Linked DNA regions of Homo sapiens. The protein of the gene in region 2 purifies or fractionates together with the protein of the main gene of each other region. This does not show direct contact. Each region holds a gene or a part of one and is shown on either strand. Other genes may lie near its edges.

Region 1 (3,500 bases), on a different chromosome or scaffold from region 2:
AGTGAGAGGAGTCCAGTCCACTAAGCCTGCTTACTTTTTTTTTTTTTGAGACAGAGTCTTGCTCTGTCGCCCAGGCTGGAGTGCAGTGGCGCGATCTCGGCTCACTGCAAGCTCCGCCTCCAGGGTTCATGCCATTCTCCTGCCTCAGCCTCCTGAGTAGCTGGGACTACAGGCGCCCGCCACCACGCCCGGCTAGTTTTTTGTATTTTTAGTAGAGACGGGGTTTCACCGTGTTAGCCAGGATGGTCTCGATCTCCTGACCTCGTGATCCGCCCGCCTCGGCCTCCCAAAGTGCTGGGATTACAGGTGTGAGCCACCGCGCCCAGCCCGAACACTTACTTTTATGAAATGACACCAAAGACTACAGTAGATACCACTCCTGACACCATCCTTGTCTACTTTCTCTTTAATGATCCACTATGGAATTATGCCCGTGTGTGTAATCAAATCCTTCTCAAACCCACCACCTAACTTCACTTCTCTGATAAGCACTCAGAAGACTGCTGGTGTGACTACTGACTATAACAATGGCTGACTTTTGTCAATTATTGATATTACACAGCAGAGTGCCAAATTAACAGGCAGTGGAGGAAGGGACACCACAACAAAGAGGACCAAGAGGCACAAAAAGAAAGGACTCTGGGAGGAGCAGGATGGCAGTGTCCTGACCCCAAGGAAGAACACATGGACCTGCTTCAGTGATTGCTCTGCCCTCTTCTCTTCCTGCATGCATTTCAAAGATAAAGCATCATGGTGTGGGTGAGTCTGCTGACAGGAACAGAATGTGATAAACTGGCCATGCACAAGCTACACAACAGCTCATATTATGCTTCTGATTAGCTCCAGCACATTCATCTACCCCTTCTCTATCCCCTACCCCTATCACTGCTTTAATTCTGACATCTGAACTCCCTGCCACTAGTCTCCTTTTCTTCCAACCCATTCATCGTACAGCTACCAAACCTGTCTTCCAAACAGAAGCCTAATGTGATCTGCCTGTTCACATGTCCTCCAAGTCAACTAAGACACCTACAGTATACAATTTGAATATGGCATATAAAGCTCTTCACAGTCTGGCCCATGACCAGACTGCATTCTCAAAATACTGGCCCACATGTAACTCCCTGACTATTCCAGCGTCTGTGCATTTGTATAAACTATTTCCTCTCCTTTACACTCCCTGTCTTGCCACCCGGCCATCAGGCAAACTCCTTCATCCTTCAGGCAGGACAGCTTTTTAAGTCAGCTGTCTTTCTGTAAACACAGGGACCTGGTTCCAGGACTTCCCCCATATGCCAAAATCCACACATACTCAGGTCCTACAGTCAGCCTTGTGGAATTCCCATATATGAAACATCTGCCCTCCATATAAATGTTTCACATTCTGTAAACGCTCTTTTTTATTGGCATTTGGTTGAAGTTCTAACCTCTGTTATTCATGAGTCAACTGTACTGGTCAATTCCCCACTTCTTCCCAATCTTCCTAGAAGCCCCAGCTGTACATGTCACCCTCTGGCACTACAGCCTGATACCAAAAACAGGATGCCAGCTCCTGGAGAGGAGGGACTATTATCCCTTTATTCACCTCTGGAACCGTTGCACATCCCTGACACACAGTATGTGCTCTGTTCAATCCTAACATTCTCTCAATCTTAGACTCACAGGATTTTAAAACTAGAGGAAACCTAAGTTACCATCTAGTCTCAAAGTCATAGGATTTGAGGGTAGGAAAAGACCTCAGGGATCATCTACTTTAAAACTTCAATTTATAGTTAAGGAAACTCAAGCTTGACATTAAACAGCTTGCCCAAATCAGACAAATGATCAGTATCTGATGAGAGAATAAAGTTCTGCTATCTGTCCAGGTTCTTTGTAGATATACACAAACTAATACAGTGGAATTTAGTAAGATCTTTTAAAGCCTGTACAATAGTCCAAAATAAACAAGATGAAACAAACACTTAGAATCCACATATCAAGTGCATAAATACAGGACTATAGAGAACTATATCCCATATTCTGCACTGGGCAGAGTACACTATTCCAGTGGATCACTGTCCCCAGCTCTGGGCAGGAAGGACACTTTAAGAGAGTCTCTAACAAACTAGGGAACATTAAAAAAAAAAAAAAAAAAAAAAAAAAAAAGGCAACCAGGATGGCAGATGGCCCTTTAAAAAAAAAAAAGTCATTTACAAATAAAGACATTTAACTTCAAAAGGGGAAGAATTATAGATAATATATGAGCTATCCTAGAAGTGACAATCAGAAGCTAGCAGGAAAAGAATTGTGGCTTAACACAGTTTACAATCTACTCTATCATGAACTAGAACGAGTTCCTTTGTCAGGTAGGAGTACTCCATAATTAGAATCTGATGATCAGGCCGGGTGTGGTGGCTCAGGCCTGTAATCCCAGCACTCTGGAAGGCTGAGGCAGGTGGATCCCTTGAGCTCAGGGGTTCAAGAACACCCTGGGCAACACGGCGAAACCCCGTCTCTACAAAACATACAAAAATTAGCCGGGTGCAGCAGAATGCACCTATAGTCCCAGCTACTCGGGAGCCTGAGGCAAGAGAAATCGCCTGAGCCTGAGAGGCAGGAGTTGCAGTGAACCAAGACTGCACCATTACACTCCAGCCTAGATGACAGAGTGAGACCCTGTCTCAAAAAAGAAAACCAAAAAAAAAAAAAAATGATGATCAGCATAGGACTAGAAGGATCTTCAGAGGTCTTGAGTTCAACCTCTTCATTTTATAACTGAAAAGACTGATGCTGAGGGAAAGAAGTGACCTGTCAAAGATCACAACACTGAGGTCAGAGGGAACAGTTTTTTTATTCTGGTTTTCTCAATTCTGGTCTCTGCTGTAACAAAATGCTGTCTTTCCCACAGTAGCAGAACGATCCACGAAGATGTTACAGAATTTAGTCCCAGAATTCAACTTTTAGGCAAAGCCTAGAGAGCTGGGCGTCCTTCCAGCTTTTAGGTTCTAGCAAAATTTCTTCCTAAATTTAAGAACTCCTAACCCTAACTAAAAATTAACTCAGAATTGTCCAGATTAACAAAAATTTCTTTTTGTCTTTGAGACAGATTACATCTCGTCTCTAAAAAACCTAAATTCTAATCATTGGTGCTCTGCCAGTCTATCACCCAGTATCCTTCAATGCAATGTTATGCCAGATGGTGTATCATACCTATTTCCCATCTCCCATTCAATTTCTTCTTTGAAGTCGAACACCACTGATCATCTTTTAAAACACATCTGATGCATAGTTTTTTAAATTAAAATTCAATAAGTAGAACATGTTCAAAGCTAAATGGGTTCTATTAGTCTATACACACTAGCATTGTTCTTTATCTTAGCGGACTTTTTTTCTTTTTTAGAGACAGGGTCTCGCTCTGTTGCCCAAGGTTTTGGTGCAGTGACGCCATCACAACTCACTGCAGCCTCATACTCCTGGGCTCCAGAGATCCCCCCGCCTCAGCCTCCTAAGTAGCTGGGACC
Region 2 (3,430 bases):
CTATTGCCATTTCACCATAGGCACACTAGAGAAAAAGAGGAAGGTTAGTCAAGGATGGTGCCAATGGCCAGTCAGTATCGGCTTACAGCTTGTAATGCGTCCTGACATCACTATCAAGCCTGACTATTGAGCACCTGTATCCAGTTGAGTCACCACCACTGTCCTCCTATTTGCATGCATGATTTGAGGGGAAGACTAGAGTGTTTTAAATCATCAATAAAAAGTGGAGAAAACAAAGGTTATTCAGAGCCTGTCTCACTTGGGGACACAGATCCTTCTGTCCAGTCTATCAGAAATATAGAATACATTTTTCAATCTAATGAATTAATTTTAAAAGGGACCCTAAACAAGAAGCCCAATCAAATGCACACAAGTAATCTAGAAGACATGATTACCTCTAAAATATGTGCATATATCACAGAGATGTTAGTGCAGATTAATATATTAAAGAGACTGTTAAACAACTGAGGCTGAAGTTTTAAAAGAGCCCTCCCCCCAAATCTTCACGAAACATAACCTAAGAAAAGCCCAAATGTTACTAGGAATGTAAGACTTAAAATTATAAACTCCTAAAAAATAGAAGTGCATGGTGGAAACACTGATAGGTCTTTTACTATATGAACACAAACTTCTTTGTTAAAAATGGATACCTGAACAAACCCATTTAGGCAAATAGATTAATCTTTAACACCCTCATTACAAAGTTCACACCTCTGAATTTAACCGTCATGAAAGAGAATGATCCAACTGCTATTTATGTTCAAGTCCTGTATTTTTGGCCATGTAACTGAAAACTCCTTATTCATTCTTTAACACACAGTGCAATAGTGAAATGACTCTGCCACTGTGTGTTTTTTAAAAAAAGATCAGAGTAAGCATGTTCCTAGTAAACCACAAAGTAGGATATTGAGGAAGCAAATCTAGATTAAAAGGCAGGAAAAAAAGGCAGAAGTTTAAATTTCACTAATTTTTCAATTTATTAGCATACCAGGACCCTTTAAACCTTGTTCCCATTAGCGCCTGGTATTAGATGTGAAGGATCAAACCTACGGATCTATCTCCTGACTGCTTTTATAAGGCGTGTAAAAGTCGGTTTTCAACTGCACACAGGCCTCCTAAAATGCCTTGTTTCTCTAGTCCCTCCTGCTTTAAGCAGCATGAGCAGTAAAGCAGGGGTTGGACCAAATAAAAAGACAAGAGCTAACTGAATTGTATGGGAGCAGCATTTAACATATTCCTAGTCAAGGACAGGATGGGAAGTAAGTGAAGAATAGGGCCAGGAAAATAGTGTCCTATAGCAGAGGTGGTTGGCACTCGGGGTAGGGTGTGCAGTGGTGCTCTACGAAGCAGCAGGATCACAGGGATGTACTTCTTATCACATTTCTATGAAGAAATGGGAAGATCGGGATATGAAAAAGAAAATGTTCTATCCCCAAATAAAAGCAGAGCATGGTTAATGGGACCTGAATGCACATTTATAGCATAAAAGAATGTCAATTCTATTTCATAAAGGAAAAATCTCAACTCTTTGTGACTGAGTTTCACATTAACTGGAACTTTATTTGCTTAAAACCTAAACATTGTCAGTTTGAAAAGAAATCCACTGTGACCTGTAGACTGATCTTGTTGATTAAATTCTAGGGTTTTTTTTTTTTTGGATTCTTGGTAAAATTTTATCCAAAAAACAGGATACATATATATTTAGAGAAGGAAATATGAAATCAAGAGTTTTGGCAGCCCCTGCTTTTTTTTTTTTTTTAGCTCCCTAAAGACTGTAGCAGGATAAAAGGATCACTGGCTCCGAGTCTCTTTGAGATAACAAGTGATGAAATAAAAAAGAAAGCCCATACCCTCAAATAAGGTCAGGTAACCCCATTGCCCACCCTCCCTACAAGGTAAAAAATGAGTACTTTTAGTAACAGTTCAGAATTCATCTTTATCTCCTACCTGCCTCATCGGTGGAAGTTTAAAGTCATGATTTTTTTTAGACATTGATACTTGTGTCTATAGACAAATAAACTCATATTAGATGACAATTGATTTTTTAAAAGTCCAGGTAGAGAAAGGAGCAATCATTTTGAACTAAAATCTTTCTATGTTTTTTGATTACTATTCAACTTGCTATTTTTTAGCAAAAAGCGAAGTTTCAATAGTGTTCATCTCAAATCTTATTGCTTTACAACCGTGGTACACCTTTCATTAAAAATAAAAAGATGAAGCAGTCAATCCAGTGATTAATTTGACATGGCTTTCATTGGGAAAGGGGAGGGCTGGCAAAGAGACCAATAGACAAAAAGGTAACTTAAACACTTACACATACAATGGTTTGCTTTAAAAAAAAAAAAAAAAAAAGAGAGAGAGAGAGAAATGTTACTTTCAACAAATGGAAAAAAGCACTGAAAGCCCATGAGTCAAGCCATAGCCAAAACCATGTTCTATCTTAAGTAGGTTCTTTTTTTTCCTCCCTCTTTTTTCTTTTTTTTTCTTTTTTTTTTTAATAAAATCTCTCCCCAGACCATCATCACTTTTAATCCTCCCCAGAAGGGGCTTCATCTTCAGACCCTTCATCCCCAGATTTCTCGGGTGGGGGGCTTGTAGATGTTTTCTTTTCTGGCGGGCTTTCCGGTTCCTCATCTTCTTCTTTGGGAGAAGGAGTCTTTTCCTTTGATGCCTTTGAAGCTGTGGGGCGACCCACTTTCCCTTTGCCTTTCACTGGACTTGGCGTCACTGAAAATAGAAAAATAATTTGGGGAAGGGAAGAGAAAAAAATGTCTTTAATAAAAGTCAGCTACAAAATACAACAATCTGTAAGAATAAAATCTATAAAGACAATATGCAACTTACTAAAAACCAAGGTGGGCACAAGGGAGCACATATATCCCTAGGTAAATCTATCTCAGTTTCTAAACTGGTCATAAGTTACTACACTATGCTACAGTATTTCCCATCAGTTTTTACCAACACTCTATGATGTTAGCAGTAATACCTGTAAAGAAGAAGCACCATGCTATAGAATATGCACAACATCCTTAATTGCTTGGTAAACTAACAGTTGTTTATGATAAAAGTTGTTTATAAAAAGCAGGTCAAAAAGACGGAAGGAAAAGAATTAATCTGATCAGAAACTAAAGCCATCAAATAACATTTGATAGTTCCATCATTCCTAACAGTAGGAAGTGATAAACAGAAGTTTAACAATGACTAGTTCTACCTAACAGAATAAAACCACCTACACAAAAAGCAAATTGATTTCTGATTTAGTTAACAAACTAGCTCCAACGAGGAGAAACCATTAGGGCTCAGAAAAAAATCAACTCATGTCATCAAGTGTGGTTTTATTCTGATAGCACAGAGGATGGGGTAGAGTTCAGAACGTGGAACTTAAACGTATTACTCTAGGTTTGTGCATTTTCACAATTAAGTCTTTGCT
Region 3 (3,500 bases), on a different chromosome or scaffold from region 2:
CTTTCAGTAGTAGAACTTCAAGTAGAAGCACTGAGCCATTACTGCAGTTTTGTGACAAAAATGTCTGTTTTATGATGGAAATGTTTGGGTTTTTATTCCATTTCTTTGTAGAGAGAATTTATTTACTAAATATATGTAAAAATAGTTCATACTTATGTGTATGTCCCATACACATAAAGCAAAGATTTGGTGACTAAAAAGATGATGAGTGCTACAACTGGTAAAGGAATTAATATTTAAAACGAATCTCTAAAGGTTTCAGAAAATCATTAGACTGTTGCCCTGCTCTAAGGTATTCTAAAGGCCTATATTTTAATATGGATATGGACACAACTAAGTTGAAAGAAAGGTGACCTTTGTTTTCATAATGCACTCAGCACCATTCAGCAGTCCTGTGAACAAAGGAGTAAAGGGATAAAAAGGAGAATGGAAAACTTTGTCATTTCCCAAGTCTATGGATATAAAAATATTTCTCTAAATATTTCTCCTTGAGGACAGAGATTGTGAGCTCCTTGAGAACGGTGACAAATAGTAGATATTTAATAAAAGTCTGTTGGCCAAATGAAAAAATGTTACAGTTAGGGTGCTCATTCATCCCACAGCCGTCTATAAATAGGATTTCAAGGAAGCCACTTAATACAATGTGTAGAGTGATTTAGAGAAGAATTCCCTTTTCCCCAGACAGACAGATATAAAAATTGGGTTGATCTACCTCATTACTCTTGCTTTGAGATAGGGTCAGGCTATCATTGGTCAGTTCCTCATCATCAGCACTGTTTCTGCTAAGAACTTTACTCTTCTTCTTCTTGCAACCCCCTTCACTGGCAGGGCTACTATGATCTTCATCATTGCCTTCATCATTCTCGTCTTCATCACTCCCGCTTCCCTCATCTTCATCATCCTCATTGTCTCCATCACTTCCCTCTTTCTGAGACGCAGATCTCCCTTTTCTCTTTACTACAGTAGGTCGCCAATCATTGTCATCCTCACTGTCATAGTCATCCATGTCATTCAGCTCTTCCATGGACACAAAATCCAGAAGTGGTCGGTTTCGTCGAAGGTTCCATTTTTTTGGCTCGCTGACTTGTTCCTCTGTAGCGGTTGTCGTAGTGGGAACAGAAGGGGATGTGTTAACAGCAGGAGGACTTGTGGCTGGTGTGGTGGCAGCAGCAGAAGCAGCCACATTCTCAGATACTGTTGCTTTTTCTTTTTCCTTCTCTCTTTCCTTCTCTTTCTCCTTTTCCTTTTCTTTTTCCTTCTCTTTCTCCTTTTTCTTTCTAGGTCTTTCTCCATTTTCTTCTTCTTCCTTCTTTTCCATTTTAATTAATTGTTTTTCTGATGATAGTACTTCTTCCTCTGCAGAATTTTTAAGTTGTTCTTCTTTTACTTTAATATCTTCATTCAGTTCTTCTTCTAAAATATTTTCTTCAGAATCACTACAGGAACCTTCTCCACTGTCCTTTGAAGCATCTTCACTTCCATTACCACTCCCTTCAGAATCTGTTGAAAATATGAGAAAAAAAAAACCACACATATGTATATACATACACACACACACACACAACGCTGACACAAATGAAACCACCAAAATTTGTGAATAACTTGCAAAACAATATAAACAAATTTAAGTCAAAGAATGGTAGACATTCCCAACCTGATCAAATAATAAATCAATGAAGTTGATACAATGGTTTTAGTTCAGTATAGTGCTAATGAAGATGAATATAGATAACCCTAAATTAAAATATGCTTTAAAAAGAGAAGCACTAATTTGTGTCATATGGCAATATTTGGTACTGAAAAGGCAATTATTTTTTAAAGTAAATGTGCTTCTTTTAAGATTGGGCACTTGATTTTAATTTTACTGATAATACAGACAAAATTCTTCCTCCCTTAAACATCTTTTATAAACTATATGGACTTGTAAGTATTGAGTCAAAACCAAAACAAGATAAATCTAACCCATAAAACTGCTTCATTTATTTTACTCTTTACCCAGTAAAATAAGCATAGATATTTATGATAGTCAACTTATACTACAACTCTAATATACCAAACAAATTTTAGGAATACCAAGAACACAGGTGAAAAGAGACAACAGCAATGGCACAGAAAAAGGAAGTTGCAAGAGAAATTATCAATCTTCCTGTTTATTAGGATACTGTTCGTATCAATAAAAGAAGAGTCACTACACTTTCAAAACTTCTACGCAGTAACTACTATATGCTCTAGAATGGAAGAAATTGATGAATAAAGCAGTCCATCCTGAAAATGAGCAGTCACAGAGGTTACTAAAAAGTTAGGCTGAAGACATTAAAGAGCTCACAGGACTGTAAGCTTTCTAGCAGGTTTCTTCCACTCCTGCCTAGGGCAGCCCAGTCCCTCTCAACCCAACACTACTTAGTAACTCAGTAATCATTACTCAGTAAGTACTCAGTAATCATTCTTTTTGTACCCAATTAAGTAAATAACAATCTAAAATCTTTGAAGCGAGAAATAAATGGGAGGAGGGAAAGAGGACAGGGAGCAGTAGGAGATGGGGAAGAAACCAGTTAAGTCTTAGCCAGTAAAATCCACAGGATGATGAATTTTTTTGCACCTATAGCCAAGAAAAAGGTAATGATAAAATGGTGGAAAAAGTAAAGTGTTTCCACATCATTTTAATTTCTATTAACTCAACTAGGCTTAACCTCTGTAATTAACTAAGCACTAAAATTGAAGGAAGCTGTCTGTAATTAGTATCTGGTATCTAGTGAACCCCACAAGTCACATACAAATGACTGCTAACAAAAACATCCTGCAAGCAAAATTGCATAAAAAATAAACACTAACATTTAACAGATACTGACTGACCCTATGAAATCATTATCAATCTCACAACTGTCATGTAGGTATCCATAGCTTACTTGGGACTGTTCTGAAAAAAACACTCTTATCCTAAACAACCTTGCATAGGATACAAGAGCAATATCATACGGGTCAGCAATTCCCTATCTGAAACTTTAAGAACCAGATGTGTTTCAGAATTCATAATTTCTCAGATTTTCAAGGGTAACATGGAACATGCACCATATATTACACTAATACCCCCAGTGAAGTCCATGGTATTATCCTATAATCAAACATTATTTCTGCGGAGAAAAGTATAAATCCTATTTACAGAGTATGAGAAATAAATACTACAAATAAACTCCTACCAGTTCCGTTAGGCTTTGCCATCAAGTAAGTTTGTGTGAACCTTACAAAACACTTGGATTTTTAAGCTTCTTGGATTTCAAGAGTGTGGACCCAATATTACTCACAAACAAGTGACTTCTTTTCAGTCTCTAAAGCATTAAGAAAATTATGATTTTGTAAACCACTCACAGCAATTAAACCCAACCTACCAAGAAAAATCACATCTGGTAAAAATAACAATAATAGTAATCTCTTGACATTTTAAAATTATGATTTAATAAATAATAACCAGAGTTGACTCAACACTTCTAAGACACAGAAAG
Region 4 (4,049 bases), on a different chromosome or scaffold from region 2:
TCACTATGTTGGCCAGGCTGGTCTTGAACACCTGACCTCAGGTGATCCACCCGCCTTGGCCTCCCAAAGTGCTGGGATTACAGACGTGAGCCACCACACCCGGCCATGAAGAGAATTAATTCTTACTGTATTAGTACTAAGTATTAACCAAGACCATTTGGAGATCAATATCACAAAAAAAGGTCCACTGTAGTGAGAAAATCGTTGGTGCTGGACCTCATTTAACTTAGAGTAGCTTTTGTTCAATGTCTCCATGAAAAGCTATCACATTTTTTAAAAACCATACACTATCTCAAAATATCATGGACCACAACTCTAATCCCAAAAGAATTTAAGCAGAAAAAGATGAAAATTGTTAGTGCGTATGCCATCTATCCTTGACGTTTCTCCACATGAAAGCCATCTATCTTCCAAAAAGGCAGCTTGCACATGAAGACTCATGGGTATTCAAAAACAGTTGTTTTCAAAACCATCTTTTCAATGAGCAAGGATTTGTCAATTATTATCCTCCTGAGGAGTTCTTTCTTAGCCATAAAGATAACTTTTATCAATTAAGCACTAACACTATACCCTTTACAAAACCAGAAAGGAAAAAATATTTACTGAAAACAATACAAAGATTCACACTGTAAGTCCCAATTATTTATTCAAAACCCTGAGGGCCAGTTGTGTTTAGAATTTGTAATTGTTTTGGATTTTTAGAAGGGGAGTACTTTGCATGTATCCTGCAAATACCACCCAATAACAAAACATAATAGTATTTCTGCAGCAAAAAATATAAACAGTCACACTAAATGAGACACACAAAAACCATAAGTAGCCTCAGGACAGATTAAGACAGGTTTGCCGCCAAACAGGTTACTAAAAAAATGTACATTTTCAAGTAACTCCCGGTATTTGGGAAATTAAGAAAGAGGACTGTGGCCCTATTTCAAGGCACCAATATTATTCCTGCATTTGGTGAGCCTTTACATACATACCACCGGCCGGGCGTGGTGGCTCATGCCTGTAATCCCAGTACTTTGGGAGGCCGAGGCGGGTGGATCACCTGAGGTCAGGAGTTCGAAACCACCCTGACCAACATGGTGAAATCCCGTCTCTATTAAACATACAAAAATTAGCTGGGCGTCATGGAATCCGCCTGTAATCCCAGCTACTAGAGAGACTGAGGCAGGAGAATCGCTTGAACCCGGGAGGCGGAGGTTGCAGTGAGCCAACATCACGCCATCGCACTCCGACCTGGGCAACAAGAGCAAAACCTCGTCTCAAAAACAAACAAACAAAAAAACACATACATACCACCCACCAGCTGAGGTCATTTTAGGAGACATTAAAAAGTGTACATTTTCAACCTGAAAAGCCGCTGTGAAGAGAAAGATTTCTATTGATATGAGCAAGAATACCACCCAGTTTTCCAAGTATCTTAAGGGTAACCTGCCAGGAAATGAGCAAGAATCACAGAAAACGGCTGAAATGAAGGGGGAATCTTAAAAGTCACCATTATAGTCTAATTACCGAGATATTTAAAGCCTTGACGTGAGACTTATTCCTTCCTGGCTTGATCCTGGAACTCAGCTCTTCTCTGTGGCTTTTACCAATATATCTCCCATTGTACTCCAGGGCAGACTTAACTGCTCCTTCACTTCCTTCCAGCAACACCTTGTATACACCTCCAAGCTGAGAACTTACTAGATCCTTCTAAGATTATTCATGTCTGTTTTCTCCTATCGGGCTGTGACACCCTTAAGCCAGGGATCACATCTAATTAATTTCTGAATCCACAGCAACCACCGCGCAGAAAGTAGTCAATAGACATTTGTTGAATTGAGTTAGATTTGTTCTATATTCTGGATCTGCCACTGCCTGAGTGGCTTGCGGCACTCCATGGGCCTCCGTTAGTTCAGCTGTAAGAAGAAACGACGGGGCCATTCCTGGGTGATCTTCTAAGTGCCTTCTAATTCTAGAAGTTTTTAGTTTTTACCAACTGCATTTTCTAGGCGCTGTCGAACTAGCAAATAAGGAAAGAGGCAACTGGCCTGAGAGGGATCCCCTGCGAGTGGGCGCTGGCTTCCCACCACCCAGTCTTCTGCTTTGTTGTGCCCCTCACCTGGAAGGTAACGAGGCCTCCAAAACCCCGCCTCTGCACCTATCAGCGTCCCCGCTCGGAAAGGCGGGGATTCGGGCCACCCAATCGAGGTCCGCCTAAGCCGCGCCCCCACAGGACAGACTGCCAACCTCGACCAATCAGGAGAGGAGGGATCGTTCTCTCCAGCCAGTGGGAGAGCGCTGGGGCCGGGGCCAGACACCGCCCCCGCACGCGGGGAGGTGACCGTTGAGCCCAAACAGGCGGCGTCACCAGCCAATCAATATGCTTCCAGACGTTTCAGCGACCAATTAATAAGAACGCCTCCGATCCAGGCAAGCAGAGGGCGGGAATAGTTGCAAGCATAGGCCGAGGCCAGGGTCGGGCCCACATTTTTCTGTTGGGTATGGACAGAAGAGAGGGTAGCTGAACAAGGTTCGGGGGAGCGGAAAGTTGGGACCCAAGCACTGTGAGGCGTGGCCAACTGCGTCACGGTGCTCAATCGACTGTCCTTAGAAACCCGCCATCCCTCCTCTCCCGTTTCTCACCTTCCTTCGCGGCATTGCCGGCGGCTGCGGCCCGACGGTTCCGATTCGGGCAGCGGCGGCAGCAGCAGGAACGGTGGCTCCGGCGGGCTCCGTGGCGGCCTCTGTATCAGTCCCAATCCTGCGGACGATCCCTAGTGCCTCCTGCCTCTCAGCGTCTGGAGCGTTCTGCGCAGGCGCCGCGGGCTGAAGCGCTTTTTCCTTCACTTCCGGCTGGGTCTCGCGTCACCTGACGTTACGGGCCAGAGAGGGTGCTGGGAAGTTCGATCCTTTTGGTGAAGCTAGTGGGCGCCATTTTGAAGTTGGGCAGAAAGTGACTCCAGTGGTGGAACCCGGAGCCAACCATTTTTAGTTACGTGAGTGGCTCTGTTTGTGGGCGTGGGTAGCCATTCTTGTTTGGGGCAGAAGCCTGACAGTTGATGTAAACGGTTCTCATCTTTACCTTGGGCAAAATTTCGTTTTAATTTCTAGAGTCGAGGAAGGAAACCCCCCAGAATCCATCAGGTTGCTGAGATTAGATTTAACCCCTTCGTAGCCTGATTGTTTAAAGGACGTTTCCGTTTATTATATAAACTCAAAGTTGCGGAGGGATGTTTTGTAAAAGAAACTTTGTATTTTAAGAAACATCGTGGTCTCGAAGGGGTGGGAATGGGGAATTGAAAAAGGAACTAACGGATAGCGTCCGCCATCAAGTTTCCTGTCTGGTAGAGGAGACATTGTCCTTGCCCTTAGCTAACAGCAAGTGAGTTAGTTGATGTCGCGGGGAGGAGGCAAAACCATTCTCCAGAAGCTGCAGGTCAAATAATTCCCAATTTAGCTCTGTGGCGAGTGCCCACTTCCTAACCGCACTGTGTTTGGGTTTGAGACCACTGGGGGCCCTGGGGTGAAAAATGTGATTTGAAAGTGGGGAATGCAGTACCAGAGTCAGAAAAGCTTTGAACCCCATTTAGCTCAAATGACCTCTGGCATCCAGATGCTTGAGCAGAGAGTTACGAGGCGGAGGAAGAGGAAGGAATGTTTTTAGTGAAGTTGAAGCCCCCAAAAGAATGGACATTTAAATAATAATGAGAGGGCCTAGGAAGGAGAAGTTGGTCACAGATACTAGGCTGAAAGAAGAGCCTTAAGAAAAGGCTGGAAAGTGGAGAGCAGGCGTTGAGGATTTAACCTCTCCGGAGGAAAGGCCTTGAGAGGACCAAGTCTTGACCAATTGCGACTGGGTGGAACCCAGGCACGCTCAGTCATTAAGTTAGGATCCCGAACCCCAATTTCAAACTGAGGCCCCGTTAAGATGGAGATTTCCCCCAGGAGCAGGGCTAAAGAACAAAGAAGCAGAAGGTAAATATCTGATTGATGTGCTAAGTAAAGAACTCTAAAGATTTAAAGTTCCAGACCTTTAGCCAGCACTCTCCTTGGGGATGTCC
Region 5 (3,390 bases), on a different chromosome or scaffold from region 2:
TACTGCTGCTGGACTCAGAGTCTGAGCTGCTCCGGGGAAGGCTGCAGTCATTACGGTATACCAAGAAACTCTTCTTCACTGGTTGGTTTCCACCGCTGAAGCCATTGGCTGGTAAGTCTTGGTTGAAGGGAAGGGGAGGAGGGAAGGAACCGGTCAGGAAGATGTAGATCAGAGATGACATGGAGGTAAGAGGGACTTGGAGCTTGGGTTCCCCTTCTGTGCTGGAAAATTCCTCCAACCTTGGCCAGCAGAGCTAGCTCTGGGCAGTGTCTACCACAGTTGGCCACAGCCCTGCTCCACCCCTTGCTTCCCTCGGCAGTTACTGGCTTTAGGACACAAATGGCTTAAAGGGCAGGAGATCCCCAAGGAAGGTGAGAAGAGAAAAGGTAAAGTGATACAATGGAGGCAGGGGGCCCTGGATGGGACTTTAGCTGGGTCGTAGTGTCTCTGGGCCTCAGTTTTCCCAACTGTAAGATGAGTGAGTGGAGTTAAAGGATTCCTAAGGACCCTTCTAGCTCGCTCTTTTATGGGCAAATAAAGGGGTAACTGGGAGTATGCTGGGAAGAATGGCAGCTTTGCTCACTCTCTTGGGGGGCTGGGTGATGGTAAGGCTCACCCATTGGGGGGTCTTCTGTGGACTTATCACTGTCGCTGTCTGAGCTCGAACTGGGCCGGGGGCTCCTACCCCGCTTGCGCTGACGCAGGGAACTCATGATGGGGAGCTGGGGGGGCCCCACAGGACTGCCTCCGTGGCTGGGGGTCATCTGGCTCTCCCGGTTTTTGGGGGGCCGGCCCGGCCTCTTGGGCGGTCCAGCTGTCTTCGGGTTCTTTTTGGAGAACAGAACTGAGGTTCTCCTGCCCACCTCATGTGCGGGGGTTGAGGACATGTTGGGACCCAGGCCTGGAGCAGAGAAAGAAAGAAGGAGAGTTGGTGAGGGGCCTGATTTGAGAAGGGTAGATATCCAGGGTCATGCCCTGGGCATATAGGACCATTACTCCAGCTAACGTTGGGGAGATCATTTTAGGGGCTTGGAATTTGGAAGATTAACTCTTATACAAATAGCCAGAGAGGCAGCTAAGAGGCCCCTGATTGGGGAATGAGGGAGAAAGTACAGCTAGCTGTGTAGGAGGGACCTCTGCCTGGGGAATGGCAGGGGTTGAGTGTGTGCTGCAGAGCCAAAGTCTGACTTGCTTTGGGGTCCACCTTGCCATGGGATTCAGACCTTTGCTTGTCTCCTGGCTGCTGCTCTCCTCTGCCGCACTATCTGTCTGCCCATCCTTGTCACAGGCTGCCGGGTGGGGTGTCAGACTACCCCGGCTCGAGGGGCCATGCCGCTCAGGGCCATCACGTCCCGTCTCTCGCTGATGGGCAAGCTTCCGCCGCAGTGCCGTCATCTCTTTCTTGATCATCTTTGCACGCCGTGAGCGGCCCACACTCTGCTTGCTGGCATTCACTTCGTCCAGCCGCTCCAGAAGCAGCTTTAGCTGTTCTTCCACTGGCAGGTGCTTCTGGTTCTCCAGCAAGACCAGCCGCTCTTCCTCGGCTGCTAGGGGTAGGGTTGGAGGGGAAAGGTCAGACTCAGGGCAGCCCTCAGGGCCCCTTGAACCTGGGCAGGCAGCAAGAAACCCACTCATCCCCCCTGGGCTTCTCACCAGGAACAGCTGTAAAATAGCAGCACCAAGATGTGGAATGGCGGGCACTGCTATCCATTCACCCAGTCTGGCTTCTTGGGGAGCATTCCTGGGGATAGCTTGCCACTGCTCAGCCTAGCTGCTTTCTGCCTACACTGCCTGCTCCCAGGAGGGGACTTTTGGAAAGCTGTCCATCCCCGGCATTGGCCTCTTATATGTGTGTGTGATATATCACCCACCATCTTCAGTGTGGTGTGTGGCCTCATCTCCAGCCAGGCTGTGGGGGATATGCATGCCCGTCTCAAAGTCAATGCCCATTTTTTCTGCCTGGCGCCGGGCCTGGCGGAGCACAGCACCACCCTGCTCACGAAGCCGCACTGCTGCCCGGTAGAAGATGGTGTCCTTGGCGTTATACTTGAGGCAGTTGCTGACGATGAGGTTGAAGTCCTCCTCAAAATCATCAAAATTCAGGTAGCGGTAAGCCTCCAAGTTCTGCTTCATGGTGAAAAAGTCCATGGGCTTTTTGATGTGGTCTAGGTAGTCAGGTACCTGGAAGGGCAGGGCAGGTTTGTTTTAAGTGGAGATATCCTCCTTATTGCCCCGAACCCTGCTCCTAACAAGCCCCCCTGAAACACATCCAGCAACCTCCTCCCACCACAGTTAGAGGCAGGCATATAGCACAGGGGAAAGGAAAGCTGGATTCTGGTCCTGACTTTACCAGTCACAAGCTGTGTGACTTTGGCAAGTCTCTTAACCTCTCTGGGCCTACTTTTCCTCTCCTGGAAAATGATGAAAGTAGAGCCAAATATACTTTCTAGACTATATGAGGCTTTAGTAAGAAAATGGCTTGGGGACTCCTCTGAAAATAAACACCACCTTGCATTCCTACAGCTCTTTTTACTTAACAGTAACTTATAAGGAGGCTGCTGCCTCAGGCCTCTCATTTTATACCTTTTAGAGAGAAGAGTCTGCCAGTCAGGACCTAGGGCTTCAGAGCTGGTTCTTTAGGTGCTGAGCCTTCTAAAGTCTCCGTTCTAGGGTTCAGCACCCCGAAAGTGTCTTCCTGCCCTGGGATTATTCATTTGGCAGACTCAGTCCCTGCCTCTGGGGAAGGAGTGCAGACTGCCTCCCATTCTGGGCCCTTGGGGTGTGACAGGGACAAGACAGAGTCCAGGTGATACATGTGGCTCCAGTTCATCCTGCCCCAGAGCCACCAGCCCCTCTCTTCAAGGTCCCCATCTAGTCCTGGCCCAGACCTGCAGCAGGGGTCCAACTGGGAGAGGAACAGAGAGAAGGTGGAGTGAGGGGAAGGGATTCTTACTTCGTCCAATTCGGTTACCTCAGACAGAGGGACCGGCTCGCTGAAGATGTTGCCTGTGTCCTTCTCTTGGAGCTGCTCCAAGGTTTTGCGAAGGAGGATGAGGAAAGGAGTCAGCTGCATCTCCATGGCAATCTGCTGAACCTTGATCTAACATAGAAAAAGGCCTGATCAGCCAGGCCTCGGCCAGTTCAGTGGCAAAGAGGTCTGAGGATATGGTCCCAGCTGGCCTGGGAACCCGCCTTCTTTCCCACCCTCACAGCTGGGTGTACTCATACAGGTCTACCTTCTATGAGGCTCCACCCAGGGAAACTTGCACCAACAATTCTGGCTTCCCCCTTTCTTGAACTACCAGCACCAGCTACCTATGTCACATAACTGAGGATTCTGTTCATACGCTCCTGTGACATTCTGCTTCCAGCAGAACTAAAAGCACACCG
Region 6 (3,500 bases), on a different chromosome or scaffold from region 2:
TGAAGGATTTTGGCTCTGAAAGAAACAGTTTGATCCAAACACATGCTGAGTGCCTTCTGGACACTGGATACCTGCCCCTAGATCAGGAGCTCTCAGACAGGAACAATTCCGTCCTCCTCCCCCACTGGGGTGCATCTGGTCGTGTCTGGAGACATCCAATTGCTGATGACTGGGGGAAGGTGGGTGCTCCTGGCCTCGGGAGGGTAGACACTAGGATGCCACGAGACACCCTGCAGTGACCAAGACACAGCCCCTCAGGACACAGCATTTTCCAGCCTGAGGCATCAGTAGTGCAACTGTGGAGAAGCTCTGCTCTAGATGTACCTAGTAACAAATCCCCTAAGGGCGCCCTGGATTTCTTTGATGGGCAGGCCTATGTTAGGATAAGTAAGAGTGGTGTGGGAATACATCATCTGGGGAGTTCAAGGCTGCAGAATAATCCACATTGGCTTAATGTCATCCTATGCTGTCATTTCAGACACAAGTCCCACACTGCCGGGAGTCTTCCCTGAGCTACTGGATCAGCACAGAAAACAAGCGGTGAGATGTCCTCTCCAACAACAGAACACCCAGCCAGCTGCCCCTCCTGCTTTTTAGGAGAAGAGCCAAAATAGCTTGAGTGATCTGTGCCTCTGAGTCCATCCAGGACCCACGGCGCACCAAAGCCACCTTGGGGCGCAACTCGGTATTACCACATTACTCCCATTTCTTTCCAGCAGATAACTGGAAAAGCTTGCTTACTCTCACAAAATGAAAAATAAGGAAACTGAGAAGGCAAGATAAGTGGCATACAAACCACTTCTTTTTTGGGACAGGCTCTTGCTCTGTCACCCAGGCTGGAGTGCAGTGGTGCAATCACAGCTCACTGCCGCCTCGGCTACCTGGGCTCAAGCCATCCTCCCACCTCAGCTTTCCAAGAAGGCAGGACTACAGGTGTGCACCACCACACCTTGCTTATTTTTAAATATTTTGTAGGGATGGGGTCTCATTTTGTTGACCAGGCTGGTCTCAAACTTCTGGGCTCAAGAGATCCTCCCACCTCGACCTACCAAAATGTTAGGATTACAGATGTGAGCCAGAGTCCAAGCCCAAACCACTTTTATGATGGTTATCCTTAGAACACTCTATTCTTCCCATTTGGTACAAAGCATGTACAATCATGGGGTATTAACCATTTTTTAATATGTTCAGGTGCTGGCTGGGCGTGGTGGCTCATGTCTGTAATCCCAGCACTTTGGGAGGCCGAGGTGGGTGGAGTTCGAGACTAGTCTGGCCAACATGGTGAAACACCATCTCTACTAAAAACACAAAAATCAGCCGGGCATGGTGGAGGCAGGGGTTACAGCGAGCTGAGATCACGCCACTGCACTCCAGCCTGGGCGACAGAGCGAGACCGTCTCAAAAACAAACAAACAAACAAACAAAACAACAACAACAACAAAGATGCCCAACATCACAAATCATTAGGGAAATGCAAATCAATACTATAGTGAGATACCACTTCACACCCATTAGGATAGTTACCTAAAAACAAAACAAACAAACAAAAAAAAAAACAGAAAATAAGTGTTGGTGAGGATGTGGAGAAATTATAGCCTTTTTGCACTGGTGGGCGTTAAAATGGTTCAGTTACTATGGAAAAGTATGGTGATTACACAAAAATTAAAAATAGAACTAAGGTCAGGTGTGGTGGTTCACACCTGTAATCCCAGCACTTTGGGAGGCTGAGGTGGGCGGATCACCTTAGGTGAGGAGTTCAAGATCAACCTGGCCAATATAGTGAAACCCCATCCCTACTAAAAATATAAAAATTAGCTGGGCATGGTGGTGCATACCTGTAATCTCAGTTATTAGGGAGGCTGAGGCAGGAGAATTGCTTGAACCCAGGAGGTGGAGGTTGCAGTGAGCCAAGATTGCACACTGTACTCCGGCCTAGGTGATAGAGCAAGACTCCAACTTAAAAACAAACAAACAAACAAAAAAAAAACAAGCAGCCAGAGAAAAACCACGGCAGCTTCACATGGTGGCTCACGCCTGAAATCCCAGCACTTTGAGAGGCCAAGGCGGGAGGGTCACTTGAGCTTAAGAGTTCAAAACATAGTGAAACCTAGTTTCTATAAAAAATACAAAAATTACCTGAGGGTGGTGGCACAGGCCTGAGGTCTCAGCTACTTGGGAGGCTGAAGTGGGAGGATCACTTGAGCCCAGGAGTTCAAGACAAGCCTGGACAACATAGTGAGACCCCATCTCTACAAAAAAATAACACATTAGCCAGGCATGGTGGTACACACCTGTAGGCCCAGCTACTCAAGAGGCTGAGGTAAGAGGATTGCTTGAGCCCACCAGGAGTTCAAGGCCGCCGCGAGCCGTGATTGCACTGCTGCACTCCAGCCTGGGTGGCAAAGTGAGATCTTGCTTCAAAAACACAAAAATGAAAACAAAAAACAAATTAAATGGTAGCCTTGAATCCAAACATATCAAGAAAGAGACAGACTGTCAGAATGAATTAAAAAACATAACCCAAACATTTGACGTACAGGAAACATACTTCAAATGCAGTGCTGTTTGAAAGTTAAAATCTAAAGGGATGAATGGAAGAGTAAGGGCCTCCAAAAATCTGCTCCTCCATAAAGGTAACAGAACACTGGCAAAAATCCTAAAAATCAACTTTTTCAGAACTCTGGAAATGCTCCTCGAGCTGTTCAAATGCCTGAACCTCACTAAGAGTGTGAGTTCTGTGAGTTTTAATTTCCCGTCTCCCTCTCCCCAGATCTGAGGGAGTCTTGAAAACCAAGAGCCCCCCTGCCACAGTAGCTGTAAAAATGGGAGGAGGCTGACTGGGTTGGGAGCTGTTGGAAGTTCCACTCCCAGGGTACTGGCCCTAGTTGACCTGTCTAGCAGTTCCCTGGAAACGTCTACCTGCAAGGCTTGTCTTTAGTTGCTCTGACTCAGTATTGAGTTGAGCTCACTCAACGTGAACAGCATTTTCCCCTGGGCGTTTGTCAAAAACCATCAGTGACAACTGTTTAACATCCCACCAACCAAGACAGCAGTAACGATTGACACAAACAAGAAACTGACCAAAAAGCTTAAAAGGAAAAGCTGGGACTCTAGAGGGCCACCAGAGCAGTGCACATGCCCAAGAAAGACAGCCAAGGCCCTGACCGCTCGCCTCTGCTGCCCTGGAGGCTCTGTGCAAGCAGGAAGTAAAGGCTACAGCAAATTGCAGACTGCCTGCCAGGGGGTTGGAGGCACATTCCAACACACACACAGAGCTCCTAGGCAAAGACTGGGAGATGCGGTGGTTCAAGACATTCAAGGAAATCTCTCATCTTCCACTGACCAACTAAGCTGACCGAGCAGAGACTTCAGAGTCCAAACACAACAAAGAATACAGGTTTTACAGAATTTGTTAGGAAAGTCACTAAACACACAAATAGCAACAATGACAATGATAAGCAGCAAAACCAACAAACCCTGAGGAGGGAGGGTCAAATTAC
Region 7 (3,500 bases), on a different chromosome or scaffold from region 2:
TTGGGGAGCCGGCCCTCAGAGGGCCTCCGCCGCTTGGAGTGGAAGATCTCCTGGGTTTTGGTGCGTGACCGAAGGATCATGGAGCGCTGGTCCTTGCCAGGCGTGCTGGGTGAGTCTGTCTCCTTGGTCTTGGAGCCCATCGGGCTGCTGTCGGAGGCCACAGGCAGGGCGGCCGGGTTGCTGGGGCTGGAGGCAGCCTTGGGTGAGGGCTTCCCCACCCGCTTGCCCGACTTGAAGGCGGCTCGCTGCTTGCCCCCCAGTTTGTCTGGGGGTGCAGGGGTGGTGGTCAGGCCTGGGGGTCCGGGCGTGCGGGGCTCACTCAGGGCCGTGAGAGAACGAGTACACATCCTGGGGAGCCCTTCCGAGGCCCCCCGGCCTGGGGCTCCAGCCCCTTCCATCTGTCCCTGGGGGGGCCCTGTGCAGGATTCAGGGAGCAAGAGGTCTTTGGGCAGCACTGGTGCCCTGCATGGGGAGTCCTCGGCCTCGGGCAGCCCCCGGTGCACCCGACGGCTCCGTAAGCTTTTGCCCCGTGGCACAGGCTCTTTCTTTGCGATGGGCGCCTCGGGCACAGCAGGCTTGTTGGGCTTCTGGGCCAGAGAGGCGTCCGAGGTGGTGGAATCCCCTGGAGCTCGCTCCCCATCAGGCCCCTCTTCACCTGGCTTCATGTGTGACAGAGAGGACTCAAACCAGCTCTGGACCTTTGACTCGGTGCCCACTGTAGGGCCCAGCAGGATGACGGACTCCCCTGAGAGGTGGCACGGAGAGCCCCAGCCGGCCTTGGAGTCCAGCACCTCCTCCACCTCCTCCTTGGTGCAGATGAGTGGGGCCTTGGGTGACAGCGGGTCCTGCATGCCAGGCCTCTGCTCGGGGCTGCCCAGGAGCTCACATAGGGAGGAGTACTCCTCCTCAGCTTCCAGGTCCTCCTTCCTGCTGGTGGGTGGCAGCAGTGGGAGGTCCCCGAAGTCGGCGGTGGAACAGCAGTGCCGGCTGTCCTCCAGCCACCGGTCAGCCTTGGCCACCTCGGGGCACTGCAGCAGCCCACCTGCCTCCTCCTTCACCCCACCCACCTCCTCCTGCTTGAAGTCCCCGGGCAACGAGGCCACCTTCTCCCCAGGGGGGTCCTCCTCCTGGAAGCCCAGGCAGGCCGAAGCCTCATGGGTGTCCCCTTTGCTGATGCCATCTGAGGCCTTCCCACCCTGCTCCAGGCCCTTGGTAAGCTCGCCAGGGTGCAATCCCCACCTGGGACAAGCATCCCCCAGGTTTTCCTCTGGCCAGGCAAAGGGGTTGGCGCTGTCCGCTGAGCTGGCAGCGGTTGTGTCCGGGAAACAGTCAAAAGCTGCTGTAGTGGGGTCTGGAGCAGGAACCCCAAGGGTGGGCTTGGTACCAAAGGAGAGAGGACCAGTTGTCTTTTTGGGGTCAGGCGTAGCGAAGGCCACGGAAGGGTCTTCAAACAGCCCTGGGCTGAAGTCCTTGGCATTGCCGCCCTTGTCCAGCTGCAAGGAGTCGGGCAGGGCCTCCGGCTCCCCAGGCCGGGGCCACGCACTCTTGGCCACAGAGTCCAGGCAGGCGCTGTGGTTCTCCAGCGAGAAGGGTGGCTTGCTGCTGTCCTTGACCAGGCTGGGTGCTTCAGCCCAAGCTTTGTCGGCCTTCTCACCGATGGCTTCCTGCAGCCCCAGGATCTCGGAGGCCAGGTCCTCCTGTGCCAGGGCGCTGAGCAGCAGCCGCGGACAGTCCCGCTCACCCGCCACGAACTTGGAGAAGCTGTCGAGCGGCAGACTGCCGTGTAGGCTCTGGAAGGAGTCGTCAGATTTGGTGGACATGTCGTCAGGAGAGGTCACAGAACAGGTGGACACGGACTCGGGCTTGGCCTTCGAGTTGCTGTTGACCCTGGCAGGGCTGCCACGGGCCTGGTTGCAGTAGAGGAAGCTGCGCTCCAGTGGGTCCTCGGAGCCGCTCAGGTAGTCGGCCTCCTGCGGCTCCGCATGCGTGGACTGTGGCGTGCTGCTCGGCGGCTCTGACAGCGGTGTGCCTGCGGGCTCGGCTGAGTAGCCGCTCCCTTCGGGGCTGCAGTGCTGGCTTTTATGCTGCTCTGGGGTCCTGGACACGAGGTTCTTGACACCTTTCTTCTGCGGCACAGCAGCCTTGGAGAGCAGCAGCTGCTGGACGGTGTTGGAGATGTTCTCCACCTGTGAGGTCAGCGCCGTGAGGCTCTGCAGGCTGAGATCCGACAGCAGGTTCTCAGGGAGCTTGTCCTTCTGAAGGGGCTTGCAGTTGCCAGCCTGGGTGTCCACAGAGCTGGTGGCATCCGTTGGGGAGGGATTGAGCAGGGGCATGAAGTGGCTGTGGTCAGTGATCCCTGCGGGGAAGGCCCCGGTGCTGAGCGGCTGCTGGCTGTAGGGAAAGTTCTCCAGGTTTGGCATCAGCGGCGACGGTGTGGAACTGTAGGAAGGTGAGCGGCCCACGGAGCGGGCGGGTGAGTGGCTGGAGCTGGGGCTGAAGGTCTGGTAGTACTGCTCTGGGGTCCGGACGGCTGCGTCCGGCTGGCAGTAGCCCTGGCCTTGCTGCCCGTAGTGCTGATACTTGGCGAGGTTTTGGTAATGGAGGGTTTCCTGGGCATGGTGCCGGCTCTGAAGGGCTTGCTGCTGCTGCTGCTGCTGCTGCTGCTGCTGCTGCTGCTGGTCATAGCTGAGGCGGCCCGACTGGTAGGCATGAAGATTCTGGACCCGCTGCCCCGGGGCCAGGCTGGAGCTGGCAGTCAGCGGCCTGTCATGGGGCTGGGCAGTCGGTGCTGTGCAACTCTTATAGGAGTGGGCCCCCTGCCCACCACCCTGGACAGAGGAGGAGTAGGTGGAGGAGGTGGGGAAGGACTGGGAATGCTGAGGAAAGTGGGTACCCTGGGGGAAGGGCAGAGGGGAGGCAATGTCGTTCTGCAGCTTCTGCCTTTGGAGCTTGGGGTATGCCAGGGGCTGCTGGGGCGGCGGTGGCTGCTGGACGTGCAGGGAGTGAGTCCGAAAGGGCACCTGGGCGCCCTGCTCTGCATACTGCCTGCTGGGGGGCACTGCTGTCTTTTTCATCAAGTTCTCATCATACTTGGCCACCCCTGCAGGTAGTGGCTGCGGCTGTGGGGGTGGTGGCTGTGGGGCCCCCCAAGCCTGAAGGCTCTCCTCACCAGCATAGCGGCCTGGGTAGGGGCTGCTGTCCTGGACGCCGTAGCCAGGGAAAGCCGGCCTCCCCTGCAGGCCTTGCTGTGTGGGCAGGGCCTTGCTGCCTCGGTGGTACTTGTCGGCGGCCACCGCGGCTGCAGTGCCAGAGGGCGTGCCAGCGCCACCCTCATAGCTCGGGTAAGGCTGCGGGTTATAATAGTCCTTGGCGAGCAGCCGCTGCCGGTCGCAGCTTAGCCCGGCCTGACTCGGCTGCCTGTAATTCTCTAGGCGTGATGTTTCCTGCGAGGTCTGCTGGTAGTTCTGTTGTTTGCCATGGAAACCACACCTTTCTCGAAA

The links.
Region 1: the proteins of NUCKS1 (region 2) and CHAMP1 purify together in Homo sapiens (affinity purification with mass spectrometry; one large-scale study listed by BioGRID and IntAct). This does not show direct contact.
Region 3: the proteins of NUCKS1 (region 2) and PHF14 purify together in Homo sapiens (affinity purification with mass spectrometry; one large-scale study listed by BioGRID and IntAct). This does not show direct contact.
Region 4: the proteins of NUCKS1 (region 2) and KAT7 purify together in Homo sapiens (affinity purification with mass spectrometry; one large-scale study listed by BioGRID and IntAct). This does not show direct contact.
Region 5: the proteins of NUCKS1 (region 2) and BRPF1 purify together in Homo sapiens (affinity purification with mass spectrometry; one large-scale study listed by BioGRID and IntAct). This does not show direct contact.
Region 6: the proteins of NUCKS1 (region 2) and PRKRIP1 fractionate together in Homo sapiens (co-fractionation; one large-scale study listed by BioGRID). This does not show direct contact.
Region 7: the proteins of NUCKS1 (region 2) and RAI1 purify together in Homo sapiens (affinity purification with mass spectrometry; one large-scale study listed by BioGRID and IntAct). This does not show direct contact.

What each region holds. Positions count from the first base shown.
Region 1 is NC_000013.11:114,317,503-114,321,002, reverse strand, and holds part of CHAMP1 (chromosome alignment-maintaining phosphoprotein 1), read right to left. Parts: intron 1-3,500. UniProt on the Homo sapiens protein: Required for proper alignment of chromosomes at metaphase and their accurate segregation during mitosis. Involved in the maintenance of spindle microtubules attachment to the kinetochore during sister chromatid biorientation.
Region 2 is NC_000001.11:205,715,753-205,719,182, forward strand, and holds part of NUCKS1 (nuclear ubiquitous casein and cyclin-dependent kinase substrate 1), read right to left. Parts: intron 2,728-3,430; coding exon 2,528-2,727; 3' UTR 1-2,527.
Region 3 is NC_000007.14:10,980,372-10,983,871, reverse strand, and holds part of PHF14 (PHD finger protein 14), read right to left. Parts: intron 1,501-3,500; coding exon 713-1,500; intron 1-712. UniProt on the Homo sapiens protein: Histone-binding protein. Binds preferentially to unmodified histone H3 but can also bind to a lesser extent to histone H3 trimethylated at 'Lys-9' (H3K9me3) as well as to histone H3 monomethylated at 'Lys-27' (H3K27ac) and trimethylated at 'Lys-27' (H3K27me3).
Region 4 is NC_000017.11:49,787,432-49,791,480, reverse strand, and holds the start of KAT7 (histone acetyltransferase KAT7), read right to left. Parts: upstream 2,801-4,049; 5' UTR 2,647-2,800; coding exon 2,632-2,646; intron 2,419-2,631; exon of another isoform or gene 2,371-2,418; intron 1-2,370. UniProt on the Homo sapiens protein: Catalytic subunit of histone acetyltransferase HBO1 complexes, which specifically mediate acetylation of histone H3 at 'Lys-14' (H3K14ac), thereby regulating various processes, such as gene transcription, protein ubiquitination, immune regulation, stem cell pluripotent and self-renewal maintenance and embryonic development.
Region 5 is NC_000003.12:9,741,735-9,745,124, reverse strand, and holds part of BRPF1 (peregrin), read right to left. Parts: intron 3,101-3,390; coding exon 2,954-3,100; intron 2,774-2,953; exon of another isoform or gene 2,584-2,773; intron 2,182-2,583; coding exon 1,872-2,181; intron 1,548-1,871; coding exon 1,224-1,547; intron 902-1,223; coding exon 617-901; intron 118-616; coding exon 1-117. UniProt on the Homo sapiens protein: Scaffold subunit of various histone acetyltransferase (HAT) complexes, such as the MOZ/MORF and HBO1 complexes, which have a histone H3 acetyltransferase activity.
Region 6 is NC_000007.14:102,409,863-102,413,362, reverse strand, and holds part of PRKRIP1 (PRKR-interacting protein 1), read right to left. Parts: intron 686-3,500; exon of another isoform or gene 479-685; intron 1-478.
Region 7 is NC_000017.11:17,792,958-17,796,457, reverse strand, and holds part of RAI1 (retinoic acid-induced protein 1), read right to left. Parts: coding exon 1-3,500. UniProt on the Homo sapiens protein: Transcriptional regulator of the circadian clock components: CLOCK, BMAL1, BMAL2, PER1/3, CRY1/2, NR1D1/2 and RORA/C. Positively regulates the transcriptional activity of CLOCK a core component of the circadian clock.